Homo sapiens: one gene and its partner. The protein of the gene in region 2 purifies or fractionates together with the protein of the main gene of each other region. This does not show direct contact. Each region holds a gene or a part of one and is shown on either strand. Other genes may lie near its edges. The genes, in order: INF2 and GAK.

Region 1 (9,185 bases), on a different chromosome or scaffold from region 2:
CAGTAGGACAGCCCTCCAATCCACCCCACTCCCTCTCCCCCACCCCACCTCTCCCACTTTGGACCTTGGGGTGCTCAGACTGTGTCCAGGTCACAGGAAGCAGGTGGGGTGGTATAACGCTGTCACAGCACGGGAGCACAGGGTCCCTGCCCAGGGCACCAGGGCCAGGGGCCTTGGCAGCATCTTCCCATGTCCCTCTGACCCTGCAAAGGCCTTGATCGGCGGCCAGGAGCCTGGCCAGGCCTCCAGTGGTGCCCATCTGCTCCTTCTGGGTCTCCATGCCATTTCCAACAGACAGAGGTTGGGGCTGAGGGAGATGGAGGGTGCCCCAGCCACGGCCAGTCACCCTTCTGGGGTGAGAACAGGAGTGAACTGAGGGCACAGAGGCTCGGGGCAGCCCAGGCTGGCCCTTCTCTCAGGACTCTCCTGGTACCTCTCTCTCCCTCCCTGCTGCCTCTGGGAAAAGCTGCAGGCGAAAGAGGAAAGCAGCCTTGGCCCTTGCCCTTGGCCATTGGCGTGGCAAGGTCCTCAGGGCCTTCACGCTAGTCATCCCATCTGGGCTGTGACCACACTGGTCATTCCACCCAGGCTGTGACCCAGGCCGACTGGCTGGGAGGGCTCCGGGGTCCAGGCTGGCCCTTGGGCAGTTGTCTGTCTGCATGGGCTGCTCTGGAGTGACACAGGTGGTTGCCTGGAGGGCGGGCCTATTCCTGCCCCACCAACCCCCGAGTTTGGAGGCCCGGTAATGGCTACTTGACCAGGACAGGCCTGTCCTATTCCCAGAGTGGCAGTGCCAGCACCCTGAGCCTACCCCAGTGGTAGCAACAAGGGCTGGGGGGCCTCGGCCTCCAGCTACTCTGTGGGGCCAGCCCATTTGCACCCTGACCCCCAGTAAGTGCCCTGCACCTGCCTGGCACCGTGCTGAGCGGGGCTGGGCTCCAGGCTCTGGGCACAAGGGCAGATGCACACAGTAGGGGCTTTATCAGCACCTCCTGGCAGAATGGATGGCACTGAGTGTAAAATGGCACCGACTGTCCCGCGCCTCACCTGTGAAATGAACGCTCCTGCAGGACCCACGTCGCACTGGGAGGGATGAGGGTGGGAGACCGTGCGGAGGGACCCCGCAGGCTGGCTCATTCCTTTCCTCCTCACCCACTCACCCAGCACACAGACCCTGCCCAGGCTGGCGTGAATGGTGAGTGGACAGACCCGGCCTGAGGCTGGCCCTCGGGGACTGACATGAGCCCTCAGAGGGGCGACCCTAAGCAACCCCTGTGGTTCCTTATTTAATTACAGCTTAGAAAGGGCTGTGAGAGAGGACGGCCCCTCAGGAGAGGACAGGCACCACCGGTCTGCCCTGCTCTCCTGGCCTGGTGGTTGCCAGGGTATACCGGCACTGGGCTGGGGGGCAGCTGTGTGAGCAGACCTCACCCCAGCTCAGGACCCAGGCTGTCTGGGTGCTCAGAGGCAGACCAGGCAGGACTCTCCCTCCTAGGGTGAGGCTGGCAGGAGTGGAAGCCTCTCTAACAGGGGGCCAGGTGGTTGGACCCTGCTCACCCCTCCAGCGACGGGGAGCCCGTGCCCCTGCCCTCTCTCCTTCCCACCGTTGGTAGAACTTAGTCTTTGACTTTAGGTGTCCACTAGGCCTGGGTCTGCTGTGGCCCCTGGGGACCACCCTCCAGAGACTGGCTCCTATGTGGCCTCCACCTCCCGGCCTTCCCGTCCACCATCCTGAAAACAGAGGTGGGTGTGCCTTCTCCAATGTAATGTGTCCACTGGGCCATGAACCACACACCTATCAGACACCTGCTGTTTGCAAGATGGAGGTAGGGGAGGGGCTGGCAGCAGGGAGTCAGGTCTCATTCCTGACTACAGGGAAATTTGACCTCCAGGCACCAGCAAAAAGCCAGGGGCTTGAGCTTACTTCACTGTCCCCGTCCAGAGCTGGGCCAGCTGCGTCCTGCCCCACACCCACAGGCAGCACCGCATCACTTTCCAGTCACCACCCACCCCTCCCGCAGCCTGCATGAACCGCATAACTTTTCCAACCCAGGAAGTAACTGCACTTTGATGGAAGGCGCAGAGTCTATTTCAGGTAGGAGCTTCCACGTCCCCACATGTGCGGTGTGTGTCATTCGCTTGACAGCCGTCAGCTCCTCCACAAAGTGGGCGCTCACCTGAAGGTTAACTCAGGAGCCCTGGCTGTGGAGGCTACAGTCGCACCTGGCCACTTGGTCCGTCCCCACTAGCGACATCCCCTTTGCCGGGCTGCAGGGCCCATGACAGTCCAGGGATGGGAGGGCAGGGCCTGGGCAGGGCCCACTGCACCAACCTGGCTTTTAGAACAGAAAATTGCTGCTGCCCTGGTAGGGGTGGGAGCAGTGTGAGGTCTCAGACCCCAGGCCTGGAACCCAATGCTACTATTTGCTGCACTGGGGGCTGAGCACCGACACCCCAAAAGCCCCTGGCTGGGTGGCACCCTCGGGGTCTGAGGCACTGCTCTGGGACCCCACCTTCCCAGTGCAGGGCGGCAGGGAGCAGGTCCCAGCCTGAGCTGCTGTCCCACCCTTCAGAGTGCAGATGTGGAAACTGAGGCCGGAAGAGGGCGAGTATCCTGCTCCATTCCAGTGCCAGACGGAGGGGCAGGGCTGGCAGTAAGGGAATTTCCTACGTCCAGCGCCTTCTGGGTGTGCCTGACCTCTGGCCCGGTTCCTGGGTTCCTGGTTCCCTGCCTGGGCAGGGTCTCTGCCTCTCTGCCTCCTGGTGTGTCCAGCTGGAGTGGGCAGTAATGCTGTGGTCACAGCTGAGCTGCGGGAGCCCTGGGTGGGGAGCTTGAGCCCCAGAAGGCCCAGACAGACAGACCACCCCCCACGCCTGTGCTCCCCAGGGGGCATTGGGGACGGTCAGGGACACAGCTGGTCACCCCGCCTTCCCCTCCTTAGTCATGGTCACTCCTGGGGCGACTCCCCAGTTAGAGGGTTGACGGGTGGGTCTGGGGGCGTACAGGGATTGGATCCTACCCCACCCAAAAGGAACAGAGAGCTGTGATGGAGGCTGATTCCCCTAAGCCTGCCAGCGGTTGCGGGGTGGGAAGGGCTCCCTGTGCGCCCACCTGCGCGTGGGCAGCTGGAAGCCAAGCAGTCAGGGTGGGGCCGCAGGCCGGCGCGCACCTCGGGGTGCCACCCGGGCGGCGGACCCGAAGTTGAAGTTTATTTTCCCAACTGTGGCTGATTCATGGTCAGGATGTGGCAGCCGCGAGGCGCGGAAATCCCGCCTGCCCTGGGAGTAGGCCCGGCCGACCCTGGGCCCACCACTCTGCGGCCAGTGCGCGCTCGGGCGGTGCCTCGGCGCGGAGGACCATAGTCCCGAGCGGGGCGCGCGGAGCCGGGGGGGCCAGGGGCGCCCTGGGGTCCCCGCCCGGGAACTGTACCCTGCGCCGCCGGACCGCCCGCCGCCACCTGGGCACACACGCCGCAGCCCGGAACCTCGCTCCTGGACCCAAGCACGCCCCTGCCTCCTCCCGGACTCAGTTTCCCCTGAAGCTCCAAGCGGACCCCGAGGCCAAGGACTTACCCGGTGAGGCAACGGCCAGAGGGCGGTGGTGCGGCCGGCGCTCCGTCCGGGGCCGGGTCAGGGGCTGCGGGCAGCCGGCGCCCACTGCCGCGCTCCGCAAGGCTCGGACGGTGGCTCCTGGCGGGCGCGGGGCGGGCGGGGCGGGCGGGAGGAAGAGGAGGTGCCGCCCCGCCCGTCAGCGGCCACGTGGGGAGCGAGCGCGGGCCGGGGGCGGGGCCTGGGGGGGGAGGTGGGTGGCTGGGGGTGGCCCCGCCCACTGTGGCCGGTCCCTGAGGGCGCTTTAAGGGGTCTCCCCACTCCCGTGAATAACCTGGCCGCCCCCTCGCGGTCCCTGCTGGCCTGGCTCCTGGTGGGCGGAGATGGGGGTGGGACGCGCAGATCGGGGCCGTCTCCCGCCTCAGCCCCCACTGTCCGCCCCGTCCCTGCCCTCCACCGCCTCCCGTCCACCTACACCCCTATCCTCCGGTGGGACTGGCCTCCCAGGCGCCGCTCACCTCTCTCTGCCCCGGCCCGGGACTCCCGTTCCAGCCAGCCGGATCCGGAGTCCCCGCGTTCGGGGATCCCTCAGCAGAGATGGCTCTTCCCAGGCTTTGGGGAGAGAGAGCCTACCCATCAACCAGGCCACCCATGTGGCCTCCTCTCCGCAGCCCTGCCTGACCCCCTTCCACCCTTGATGGGGTCTCGGCGGTCTTGGGCAGCCGCACTTCGCCGGTTGGTGGAGACAGCTGCATGAGGGCCGCGGAGGTGTCGCAATGGGGTGGGTTTTCTCTGCCACCCCTCTGCTGTCCGGCCTCATCTGTCTCCTAGATTGAGGGGGGCACCCATCCCCCCACCGCCGACATTGACCAGCATGGGGCGTGCCCATAGTCGGCTCTGAAAGCCAGCCTGGTTGGATGAGAGCCAGACCCCAGCTCTGGAAGTCCCTTCTGACGTCTGACCCTCAGTCAGAGCTGCAGGAAGCAGCGCACCAGGCCTGGGGTTTGGGGGCCACTGGCAGCTAGAGGGAGGGCAGAGGAAGGCAGGCCTGGGGGAGCCCCCGTGTGACATGTGACAGAGCAGACACAACCCCTGCCCTGAGAACCGGCGCCAGCACTCCCTGTGCGGCCTCAGGCTCGGATATGACTCTGTGGAGCCTCAGTTTCCCCATCTGTAAAATAGAATAAGTACCCGTAAGGGCTGTATGAGGGTCAAGAACATGCGGATAAAGTGTCTCCACTCGGAGTCCTGACATCTCTCTCCGGAGGGCCTGCTGTGTGGGCCGTGGCGGCCAGGGCTCAGGGTGAGGGCGAGGGGAGAGAAAAGGGCTCCTGAATGGCTTCCCAGCCCCGATGCAGCTTCTGCTTTGAGGCCAGCTGCGTGTCCTTTGGCTTTGGTGTGCCTCCGCTCCGGTGGGGATAAGCGCCGAATTGCAGGCTGCGTCTGTCTGCTCCCTGTGCGGACCTTGCCCTGCCCAGCAGCCCCAGCCCCGGAAGTTTGCTGGCTCAGCCCCAGTGCAGGAGCAGCTGCAGGCCACAGCCCCGGGTGTGCCTGAGGAGCCAGCCAAGGCAGGCGCTCACTGGACACCCTCCAACCTGGGCGGCCGCTGCTCCTAGACAGGCACTCTGCAATTCTTGGAATGCACCTGGAAGGCCGGCCTCCGGCCCTCCACACCGGGCTCCAGGGCCCCTTCCAGAGCAGAAGGCCTTCCTGCCCTCCCTCAAGCTGGGCTTTGGGTCTCCTGGTGCACTCCTGGACCCGAACATTGGTGCCTGCCCTGGTACCACCCCACCCTGGAGGGCACGGGCGGGGCTGACTCATCTGCGTTGGGAGCTGATGCCTGGCAGCGGTGCTGGGCAGTGGGTGTGTTTGTTGATCCAGTGAATGGAGGAATGTGAGGAGGTTGGTGGGGAGTGAGCTTTGACCTGCAGCCCCCTCCCCTGTCCACCTGCCTGGGGGAAAGTCAGAGTCCTGAGCCTTACTCAGAGGCTGGAGTAGGAGGTCAGGTGTGGGCGAGGGGTCCACCTTTCCTGCCCTGATGGGGGAGGGAGGCCCAGCGCCCCCAGGGCCGCTCCTGCCTGGGGCTGTCTCCCTTGCACCCAGTCGTGCTTCCGAGCTGCACACCTGGTCCAGAGAGGCCAGCACAGGCCGGAGCAGGGTGAAGAAGGTGGGGTGAATGTGATTTAGTTGGAGAGAGGTTGGAGAAGTCCCTGGGGTCGGCAGGGAGTGCAGAGGAGGGCTTTGGGCCCTGATTAAGAGTGTGTGTCTGTGTGTGTGTGTGTGTATGTGTGTGTGTGTGTGTGGAGTGGAGGCCGAGGTCAGAGGTCTGGGAGGGTGGAAATGTGGACACTGAAAGGGGGTTTTCCGTCAGGCTTGAACCCACCATGCCCGGGGCAGCAGGGTTCAACCCGGCTTGAGCACTGATTTTCTGAGACATACAGAGGCCCCCTCCTCTTCTCCTTCAGTGGCTCACCCTCAACCCTCTGTACCTCCAGCGCTCCCAGACTCCATCCTGGCCCTATTCTGAGCTTGCTTCCTGGCCCTGGGGTTGAAGAGAGGACCGATTTGGCCTCAGAAACACACCACCTGCAGCCACTGCCTGCGGCTTCCGGAGCTGCTTCCTGGAAGCCATGGCCTGCCTGGAGCCTCCCCTCCTGGGTGTCGGTCCTTCCTCGGAGCCGGGTACACAAGTGCCGGCCCCCAGCTGCAGGTACCCAGATGCCTGAGAACAGGGTCGTGCAGGTACAGGCTGGTACTGTGACACACCCAGGCGGAGCCACATGTTCCTGGCCACTGGCACAGAGTGCAAGAGTGGCCCTGCCACTGTAGGCCTGTGGAGAGCTTGCCTCTGCCTCTTGCTGGAAGATTGGGATGAGGGGAGAGCAGGCCTTGGCACCGACAGCTTGAGTTCTGCTAGAAACAGGCAGGCAGGTGTGGGCGTTCTGAGAGAAATCCTCCCAGCCTGATGTTGGCGCCGCCGTGCAGTCAGGACAGCCCTGCATGCAGCAGGCGGCCACTTGCAGGCCCAGAAGGGCTTCCTGGGGTCCACCTGAGCAGCAGCCTGGCCATGGGTTCATTTCCTTCATCAGTTCAGCACCCAGAATGCTTTTTATCTTTTTTCCCCTTTTGAGATTTTATTTTGCATCCTACTGTGGTGCCCTGAGATGATCTCTGACATTGTTACAGAATGAAGTAAGTGAAAACATGCCTGCTCACCCATGTCCACCCACCTTGCCCACCTATGTACCCATTCACCCATTCATCCATCCATTCCCACACACACCCACACTTCATCCGTCTGTTCACCCACCTACCCACCCATTCACCCACCCACCCTCATCCATCCATCTGCCTATCCATTCATCCATCCACCCACCCATCTGTCCATCCACTTATCCATACACCTACCCATCCACCTATTCACCCTTAATCCACTCATCCACCCATCCACCCACCTACCCACCCATTCATCCACCTACCCTTATCCATCCATCTGCCCATCCATTCATCTATCCACCCACCCACCTATCCACTCACACATCCATCCACCTACCCATCCACCCATCCACCTACCCACCTATCATCTACTCATCCATCCATCTGCCCATCCCTTCATCCATCTACCCATCCACCTACCCATCATCCACTCATCCACCCATCTAACCACCTACCCACCGACTGATCCACCCACCCTCATCCATCCATCTGCCCATCTATTTGTCCATCCACCCACCCACCTACCCACCCACCTATCCACCCACCTACCCATCCATCCATCCACCTACCCACCCATCATCCACTCATGCACCCATCCCCCCACTTACCCACCCATTTGCCACTCACCCACCCACCCTCATCCATTCATCTGCCCATTCATTCATCCATCCACCCACCCATCCATCCATCCACCCACCATCCACTTACCCATCGGCCTACCCACCCATCATCCACTCATCCACCCATCCACCCACCTACTCACCCATTCATCCACCCATGCACCCACCCTTATCCATCCATCTGCCCATCCATTCATCCATCCACCCACCCACCTATCCACCAACACATCCATCCACCTACTCATCCACCCATCCACCTACCCAGCCATCATCCACTCATCCACCCATCCCCCCACCTACCCACCCATTCATCCACCCATCCACCCACCCACCCACCCTTTCATCCACCCATCCACCCACTCACCCTTCCAGCTGTGGCACCTTGGGCAGCTGTTCTGCTCTATGCTTGCTGACAAGGACACGACCGCCCCCAGTCACCTCCAGCCAGGTCCTTCCTCCAACATCCCTGCCCCTCCCTTGGCTTTTTGCTCTGTAGCTGGCAGCTTTGCCTGCTGGGGCTTCAGCAGCCCCTTGTGGAGCCTCTCAGCATTTTGCAAGCTTCTCTTGCATTTCTCAGTTCAAACTCCAAGAGCACCTGAGTCAGCCTGTCTGTGTCTGGCTGCAGGAGGTAGACATTGGTCAGGGCTTATCCCTGGTCTGAGGAGGGAAGGCAAGAGCTGGGACCAGGCTGCTGCTCTTAGAAGGGACGGTGGGTGGGGCAGTCAGTCAGGGGCTTGTGTCAGGCAGGAAGCTCTGTCCTCTTCATTTGAATATTGCACACACATACAGTAGAATCTCATTATTTACAGATTCTGTACTTGCAAATTTGCCTACTCGCTAAAATGTATTTGTAAACCTAAAACCAGTACTTGCTTAAGAACAGTCTGCATCTCTTGAAAATGAGATAAAATAAGATCAATACTTGCTTTTGAGATGATGTGTCCTATGGAGAAAATACATGTGTTGGACAGGCTCTGTACAGGCATGAGTTGTAGTGCTCTTGGCCGGGAGTTTAGTGACATATATTAACAGAAACACATAAATAACTCTATTGTGTACTGATTGGTTGCTGAAAAGGCTGGAGCAGAGGCTCGTAGGAACCTGGCCCTCTATTTCCCTTAGGAGCAGAGGTTCGGCATTCACTCTGTCAAGTGTTTGCAGCCATATCATGGAACACAGGACTCGCTGTCACAGATCGAGCTGCTGCATGGCATGCGTGAGGTGCCCAGAGCTTGGGTCTACCACACCAAGAGTTTTTACATTCATAGAAACCCACGTAACTACCACCACCCATAGCAAACTCTGCAACACCTCCAGGGCCCAGAAAGTTCCATTGCATAGCCCCCTCCGTGGGCACCTGCCAAAGCTAACTGCTTTTCTCCTCTCTGCCACCATAGAGCCGTCATTCTAGGATTGCGTGTAAATGTCAACCTTTGTGTCTGGCTTCTTTCGCTCCACAGTCTCTGAGACTCATCCACGCGGTGGTGTGCATCGTTCACTCATGTTTCTTGATTTCTATGAAATATTTCGTTGCACAAACCTATCCGCTGAAAGCTGAGGTGCAGAGGCCGGGTGCTGGCAGAGCTGGTGGGCCTCCTTCGGGCACCTCACTGAGCAGGCTAAGCCAGTGCTGGCCCTCGGGAGACGCAGTCCACCTCCCTGCTGACCTCCAGTGAGCCCTCGAGCTGTCCCTCCCCAGCCTCCTTCTCGGTTGCCTCAGTTGTCTGGTGGGAGTCCAGATGGGATGCGTGCTGTTTCCCGTGGCGGCACGCAGGTTACTTGCATGATGGGGAGAGCCGC
Region 2 (8,196 bases):
CAGAAAAACACAGGAGACAAATCTTCAAGATAAAGAGCTAAGAATCCTTAGCTGTGACAAGGCGTGATTCGTAAAAGGAAAAATAAATCAGACTTCACAATGAAAAACTTTGGATCTGCAACAGACCCCGCTTTGTTTGTTTTTTTTTTTTAATTAACTGGTCTGAGTTTGCGTCCAAAAAGATCCTGTTTAGGGGACGAAAGGACAAGCTGCAGACTAGGAACAGATACTTGAAAACCCCATGTCTACGAAGGACTTAAATCTACAATAAAGAACACTCAAAACTTGGTCAAAAAAACATAATTAGGAAGTGGGCAAAAGACATGAACAGACATTTCACCCCTGAAGATATGCAGATGGCAAAGAAGCACTCCCAAGCTATCGGGAAAATGCAAATCAAAACCACAAGGAGGTATCGCTACACATGTATCACAATGATCACAGTAAAAACCACGACGCCAAATGCTGGTGAGTACAAAGAGAAACTCGCTGTTAGGGACTCAACTGTGTGCCCCCAAAATGCATCTGCGGAAGCCCCAGATGACCCTATGCGGAGACGGGCCCTCAAGTAATGAAGGATAAATAAGTTCATACGAGTGGGGCCCTAATCCAATAGGACTGGTGTCCTTATAAGATGAAGACACACCAGAGATGTCAGCATCCCCTCAGCAAAAAGGCAGCATCGGCCGGGCGCGGTGGCTCAGGCCTGTGATCCCAGCACTTTCGGAGGCCGAGGCGGGCAGATCACTTGAGGTCGTGAGTTTGAGACCAACCTGGGAAACATGGTGAAACCCCGTCTCTACTAAAAATACAAAAATCAGCGGCGCATGGTGGTGGGCGCCTGTAGTCCCAGCTACTCAGGAAACTGAGGCAAGAGAACTGCTTGAACCCAGGAGGCAGAGGTTGCAGTGAGCTGAGATTGCGCCACTGCACTCCAGTCTGGGTGACAGAGCGAGACTCCATCTCAAAAAAAAAAAAAAAAAAAAGGCAGCATCTGCAAACCAGCAAAAGAGGCCTCTCCTGGAATCAGCACTGACAGCATCTTGCTCTTGGCCTTCAAGCCTCCAGAACTGCGAGAGTGAATTTCTACTGCTCCCCACTCAGTCTGGAGTATTTTGTTATGGCAGCCTAACCAGGCTGATACGCTCCTACATTGCTGGTGGGAATGTATGGCCACTCAAGAAAACAATCTGGCAGTTTTCTAACAAACTAAACACATAATTACCACACATGAACCAGCAACTGCACTCTTAAACATTTATCCCAGAAATGAAAACGTATATTCACACAAAAACCTATACGCAAGTGTCACAGCAGCTTTATCTGTAGTAGCCAAAACAGGAAACAGCCCAGATGTCCTTCCACGGGTGGCTGGCTGGGCAAGCCGTGCACACTCACGCAGAGGAGTCTCACCACGGGAAACAAGCTACTGACACACAATTACCTGAAGAATTCTGCACTTCCCCTTACACTGCATCCTTCGAATGACAAAATCACAGACAGAGCAAAGACTAGAGGTTTCCAGAGGGTAAGGAAATGGCGTGGCTGAGAGGTGGCATGAGGGCTCCCTACGGGGATGGAGACTTCCACAGCCTCACCTGCACCAGGGTTAGCATCCCGACCGTCACCACTGGGGAAACCAGGCAAGGGTCTAAAATAGAAAAGATCTCCATCTTTTCTCACAGCCGCGTGGGAACCTACAATGAACTCAAAATAATACAGTTTATTTAAAAATAATAGTAACGTATAAGACATTAAAGAATGGCATGTCGGGTACCTCCAAGACCCTGTTATATACATTTTACAGCACACACTCTGCCAATTAAGGAACAGGCACAGGCCAGGCACAGTGGCTGACACCTGCAATCCCAGCACTTTGGGAGGCCGAGGTGGGAGAATCACTTGAGCCCAGGAGTTCTGAGAACAGCCTACAGGCAACATAACAAGACTCCATCTCTACCAGAAATAAATTAAAAATTAGCCAGGCGTGGTGGTGCGTGCCTGTGGTCCCAGCTACCTGGGAGGCTGAGGTGGGAGGATCGCTTGAGTCCGGGAGTTCAAGACTGTGGTGAGCTGTGATCATGCCACTGCACTCCAGCCTGGGCAACAAAGCAAGACCTCATCTCAAGGGCAGGGAGTGGAGGGGTGGGGAGTGGAGGCACAGAGACATCAAATGCTCAAGCCAGGTCAAATCTCAAGGCCCAGGTTCCCTGAGGCAGCCTGGCCTGGGACAGCAGAGTGACCACAGCTAAGGCTTGCCTTCTCTTTCTCACATAAATTATATAAATATATAAACATAAGACCTGTATCCAGAGTAAGCAGAAACTCCCTGCCCAATAAAAAATGGACAAAAAGGCCAGGCGCCGTGGCTCATGCCTGTAATCCCAGCACTTTGGGAGGCCAAGGCCGGCGGGTGACCTGAGGTCAGGAGTTTGAGACCAGCCTGACCAACATAGTGACACCCCATTTCTACTAAAAAATACAAAATTAGCTGGGCATGGTGGTGCATGCCTTTAATCCCAGCTAGTTGGGAGGCTGAGGCAGGAGAATTGTTTGAACCTGGGAGGTGGAGCTTGCCGTGAGCCAAGATGGAGCCACTGCACTCCAGCCTGGGCAAGACTCCCTCTCAAAAAAAAAAAAAAAAAAAAATTGCTGAACATCATCATCAGGGAAATTCCAATGAAATCACAATGAGATCGACACCACTGCACACTCACAAGAATGGATGTAATCAAAATGAGAGACCACAAGAAATGCTGGTGAGGAAGTGGAGAGCCAGGAACTCTCCACTGCAGCTGGTGGAAATGTAAAATGGTGCAGCTACCGTGGAAGGAGGTTTGGTTGTTTCATGTGAAGTTCAACCTAAATCCAACCTGTAAATCAGCAATCCTACTCCTTGGTATTTTTTACCCAAGACAAAGAAAAACACACGTCCACAAAAAGACTTGAAAAAAAATGTTCTCGGCACCTTTATTCATAACAGCGGATACGGTTTGGATCTTTATTCATAACAGCGGACACGGTTTGGATCTTTATTCATAACAGCACATACGGTTTGGATCTGCGTCCCCATGCAAATCTCATGTTCACTTGTGACCCTCAATGTTGGAGGAGGGGCCTGGTGGGAGGTGACCGGATTATGGGGCGGAGTTCCCCATGGCGTGGCTGCTCTCAGGATAGTGAGATCTGACTGGGCCATGGGTGTGGAGTTCCTCCCGGGGCTGCTCTCAGGATAGTGAGTGCTCTCCTGTGAGATCTGATTGGGTCGTGGGGGTGGAGTTCCCCCGGGGGGCTGCTCTCAGGATAGTGAGTGCTCTCCTGTGAGATCTGATTGGGTTGTGGTGGTGGAGTTCCCCCAGGGGCTGCTCTCAGGATAGTGAGTGCTCTCCTGTGAGATCTGATTGGGTCATGGGGGTGGAGTTCTGCCCGGGGGCTGCTCTCAGGAGGAGGTTGCCAGGATCTGAGATCACACCCCTGTACTACAGCCTGGGCAACACAACAAGACTCTATCTCAAAAAAATAAGAATAAAAAAATAACAGGCACAGGATATGAATGTGCAATGCCAGAAGGGGAGGCTGAGCAGCAAATAAGCATTACCAAACTCGCTACTCAGAAAGGCACAAATCAAAGCTTGACACTTTTTAAACCCATCAAAATGTCCAAATAAAACAAACCCCCAGGGGACACTCTGAGGACTTGGGACACTAGAGTCTGGTGCCCCCGAGCAGCCTGCAGGCCCCATGAGCAGAGCTGGGCAACCTTCCCCCACACAGCCCACCAGCGTCCATGCAAAGGGCTGAGGACACCTCTCACCAGGATGCGTGTAGGATGCACGGAGCACGCTGGGGACGGGACAGAGTGCCGGGGGACAGTGAGGTCAGTACAGGACCACTACAGGCAGATCTGAGTATCTTTTTTAATCAACTCGGCCTCTTTTAAGAAACAGACACTTTTCTAACGTAAAATACCACATACCAACATTTTCAATACACACATAATTCACAACACTACAGAATGAATCTGTGTCCCCTCCAAAATTCCTGTGTGAAATCCTAATACCCAAGGTGATGGTGTTAGGAGGTGGGGCCTCCTTGGGGGTGACTAGGCCATGAAGGTGGAGCCCTCAGGACTGGGATTACTGCCCCAGAGAGCACTCCCTCACCCCTTCTGCCCTGTGAGGACACAGCGAGAAGGTGCTGGACCTCACCAGACACCAGATCTGCCGGCGCCTTGCGCCTGGACTTCCAGCCTGCAGAGCCGTGAGGAATAAACAAACGTCTGTGGTTTATAGGCCCCCAGTGTACGACGTTCTGTTACAGCAGCACAGACGGACTGGGACACGGGGATGCGCACCCACACAGACAACCATGAGCAATTCACCAGGAGTCCACGGAGTGGAGGAGGAGGAAAGGGGAGTGGCCCAGCCCAACTGTCACCTCCCCCAGTGGTGAGCCCACCCGGGGGTCGTCCCCAACAGTGACCTCCCCGAACGTCTAATTCACCCCAAGGGGGTCCTCCCCCGACAGTGACCTCCCCAAACGTCTAATTCACCCCAGGGGGTCCTCCCTGGACAGTGACCTCCCCGAACGTCTAATTCACCCCAGGGGGTCCTCCCTCGACAGTGACCTCCCCCAATGGTGAGCCCACCCATGGGGTCCTCCCCAAGAGTGACCTCCCTGTATGTTAACAGACAGAAACCACAGAAGTAACACAGGCTTGTTCCTGCCAAGGGTCAGCCGCAGCTGAGCATGAAGTGGTGTTGGCCTGTCACTCTCCGCCCCAACAGCCTCTACTACCTTATATGCTCAGACATCTCCTCCAGGGCACAATGCGCAGAGCAACGGGGGCCAGGACAGGGGCCCTAAGGACACCTCCCTGGGGCTCCCAGCCCCCACTCCACCACTCGACCTCTGGCAAGCAACTAATCTCTGCAAACGTCACTTTTCTCTTCTGCGAGATGGAAGTAATTATAGTACCCACTTTCCAGGGCTACTGTGAGGACCACACAATCCACATAAAGTACTACTGACCATGCTCGGCAAATACGAAGAGCCCCTAAGGGTTGCTGTGGTGGTTCTGACCATTTTTACTTCACGCTGGGAACTAGCCAAAGTGGACAAATGTTGATGATCAAGCTGTCAACTTGGAAGTGAAGGCGGTTGGTACCAGGAGAGCCGCCAGGGGGCAGCTACTCTGTGGCAGAATCTGGGCCTCACAGGCCTGATGACCTAGAACCAACTAACCAAGCCCCAGAGACCCTGCTTACCTGCGCTCCGCACTGCCCCGCACCCCTCCCAGCTCACCTGCGCTCCGCACTGCCCCGCAACCCCCCCCACCCCGCTCACCTGCGCTCCGCACTGCCCCGCACCCCTCCCGGCTCACCAGCGCTCCGCACTGCCCCGCACCCCTCCCCGCTCACCTGCGCTCCGCACTGCCCCGCACCCCTCCCGGCTCACCAGCGCTCCGCACTGCCCCGCACCCCTCCCCGCTCACCTGCGCTCCGCACTGCCCCGCACCCCTTCCCGCTCACCTGCAGTCCGCACTGCCCCGCACCCCTCCCCGCTCACCTGCAGTCCGCACTGCCCCACACCCCTCCCGGCTCACCTGCGCTCCGCACTGCCCCGCACCCCTCCCGGCTCACCTGCAGTCCGCACTGCCCCGCACCCCTCCCGGCTCACCTGCCCTCCGCACTGCCCCACACCCCTCCCGGCTCACCTGCGCTCCGCACTGCCCCGCACCCCTCCCCGCTCACCTGCAGTCCGCACTGCCCCGCACCCCTCCCGGCTCACCTGCAGTCCGCACTGCCCCGCACCCCTCCCCGCTCACCTGCAGTCCGCACTGCCCCGCACCCCTCCCGGCTCACCTGCAGTCCGCACTGCCCCGCACCCCTCCCCGCTCACCTGCAGTCCGCACTGCCCCGCACCCCTCCCGGCTCACCTGCAGTCCGCACCCCTCCCCGCTCACCTGCGGTCCGCACTGCCCCGCACCCCTCCCGGCTCACCTGCAGTCCGCACTGCCCCGCACCCCTCCCGGCTCACCTGCAGTCCGCACTGCCCCGCACCCCTCCCGGCTCACCTGCAGTCCGCACTGCCCCGCACCCCTCCCCGCTCACCTGTAGTCCGCACTGCCCCGCACCCCTCCCCGCTCACCTGCCCTCCGCACTGCCCCGCACCCCTCCCTGCTTACCTGCGCTCTGCACTGCCCCGCACCCCTCCCTGCTTACCTGCGCTCTGCACTGCCCCGCACCCCTCCCTGGGTGAGCGCAGGCCCCGCACCCCTCCCTGGGTGAGCGCAGCCACCGCACTTCAGGCTCTGGGTCCAGGAGAGGTACAAAGAAGCAAGGATGACAGAACCCTGGTGGCTAAGAGAACAGCACAGAGCTGCAGAGGCTGGTGCCCTCAGTCACATGGCCAAGAGAACAGCACGGAGCTTCAGAGGCTGGTGCCCTCAGTCACAAGTCCTATGTGGGAAGAGGGTCGGCTACAAGGCTGGCTCGCCACAGCAACCTAAGGGTCTACTTTTTTTTGAGATAGAGTCTCGCTCTGTCGTCCAGGCTGGAGTGCAGTGGTGCAATCTTAGCTCACTGCAGCCTCCACCTCCCAGGTTCAAGTGATTCTCCTGCCTCAGCCTCCTGAGCAGCTGGGATTACAGGCACGCGCCACCATGCCCAGCTAGTTTTTGTATTTTCAGTAGAGATGGGGTTTTGCCATGTTGGTCAGGCTGGTTTCGAACTCCTGACTTCGGGTGATCTGCCCACCTCGGCCTCCCAAAGTGCTGGGATTACAGGCGTGAGCCGTCGTGCCCGGCCCGGTCTACTTTTAAGATCAGTCTAAGGCTGGGCACATTATCTCATGCCTGTCGTCCCAGCACTCTGGGAGGCCTAGGCCAGGGGGATCACGTAGGCCCAGGAGTTCAAGGCTGCAGTGAGTCGTGATCGCTCCACTGCACTCAACATGGGCGACAGAGCCAGACTCTTTTCAATAAAAGAAAATGATCTCAAGTGTACCCTGCGGAGGACACATGGGGCCAGCATGCGGCCTCCCCTGCCACTGAGCCCACCTTGGAGACATGGGGCCTTCCTGCCACTGAGCCCACCTGGGAGGGTTTCTGAAACTTGCAACCAAGAGTCTTGCTTGTACCACATGATTCTGCAACTGTCAGTCAGTACCAAATATTCACAGTGCCCTCACCCAGTCCAGAACATTCTTTTTTCTTTTCTTTTTTTTTTGGTGAGACGGAGATTTACTCTTGTTGCCCAGGCTGGAGTGCAATGGCGTGATCTTGGCTCACCGCATCCTCCACCTCCCAGGTTCAAGCGATTCTCCTGCCTCAGCCTCCTGAGTAGCTGGGACTACAGGCATGTGTCACCACACCCGGCTAATTTTGTATTTTTAGTAGAGACGGGTTTCCCCGTGTTGCCCAGGCTGATCTCGAACTCCCGATCTCAGGTAATCCACCCGCCTCGGCCTCCCAAAGTGCTGGGATCACAGGCGTGAGCCACTGCGCCCGGCCCAGAACATTCTAAGTAAGTGAAGGGAGGAAGCCTCCAAAAGCCATGTCAAGGAGGAAGAAGGGTGGAGAGTCAGGACCACACACAAGTGGCCCTGGGGGTGGGAGTAGGCTGTGCCCTCCCCATTCCTTAGGCCAGAGCTTGACCCCCAAGGCTCCTGAGCGGGCCCAGCCACTCAGCTAACACTGCGCATGGCACACAAGGGCTGCGGGCTGGCTCAAATTACATACAACACCCAACCAAACGCACGAGGCGGGTTACGCTTAAACCATACGACGGCTGTGCGGCATCGTTTTCTTTTCTGCCTCAATTTATCTCACTAGCAGTAACCCCGAGTTCAAGTCAGCCACACAGGGAAGGTGGATTTCCCTGCAGTCAGGGCACCACAGGCTCCACTTCAGAAGCAACGGCACGCAGAACCCAAAACAAAGAACACACAGCATACACCTGCCCTGGGCATCTCTGACATGGTTGGTGCTCCTGATAATCTGCCTTTTAAAAAAGTGAAGACTAGCTAGGTGCAGCAGCACATGCCTGTAAGCCCAGCTACTCGGGAGGCCGAGGCAGGAAGATCCAGAGCCCAGTTCAAATCCATCCTGAGTAACAGCAAGACCTCGTCTCTTAAATTAAAAAAAAAAAAAGGAAGATGACAGAACAAATTTGAAGAAATTAGAAAGCTATCTGG

The links.
Region 1: the proteins of GAK (region 2) and INF2 purify together in Homo sapiens (affinity purification with mass spectrometry; 2 studies listed by BioGRID and IntAct, with this or other methods). This does not show direct contact.

What each region holds. Positions count from the first base shown.
Region 1 is NC_000014.9:104,684,128-104,693,312, reverse strand, and holds the start of INF2 (inverted formin-2), read right to left. Parts: upstream 3,696-9,185; 5' UTR 3,574-3,695; intron 1-3,573.
Region 2 is NC_000004.12:921,549-929,744, forward strand, and holds part of GAK (cyclin-G-associated kinase), read right to left. Parts: intron 1-8,196. UniProt on the Homo sapiens protein: Associates with cyclin G and CDK5. Seems to act as an auxilin homolog that is involved in the uncoating of clathrin-coated vesicles by Hsc70 in non-neuronal cells. Expression oscillates slightly during the cell cycle, peaking at G1.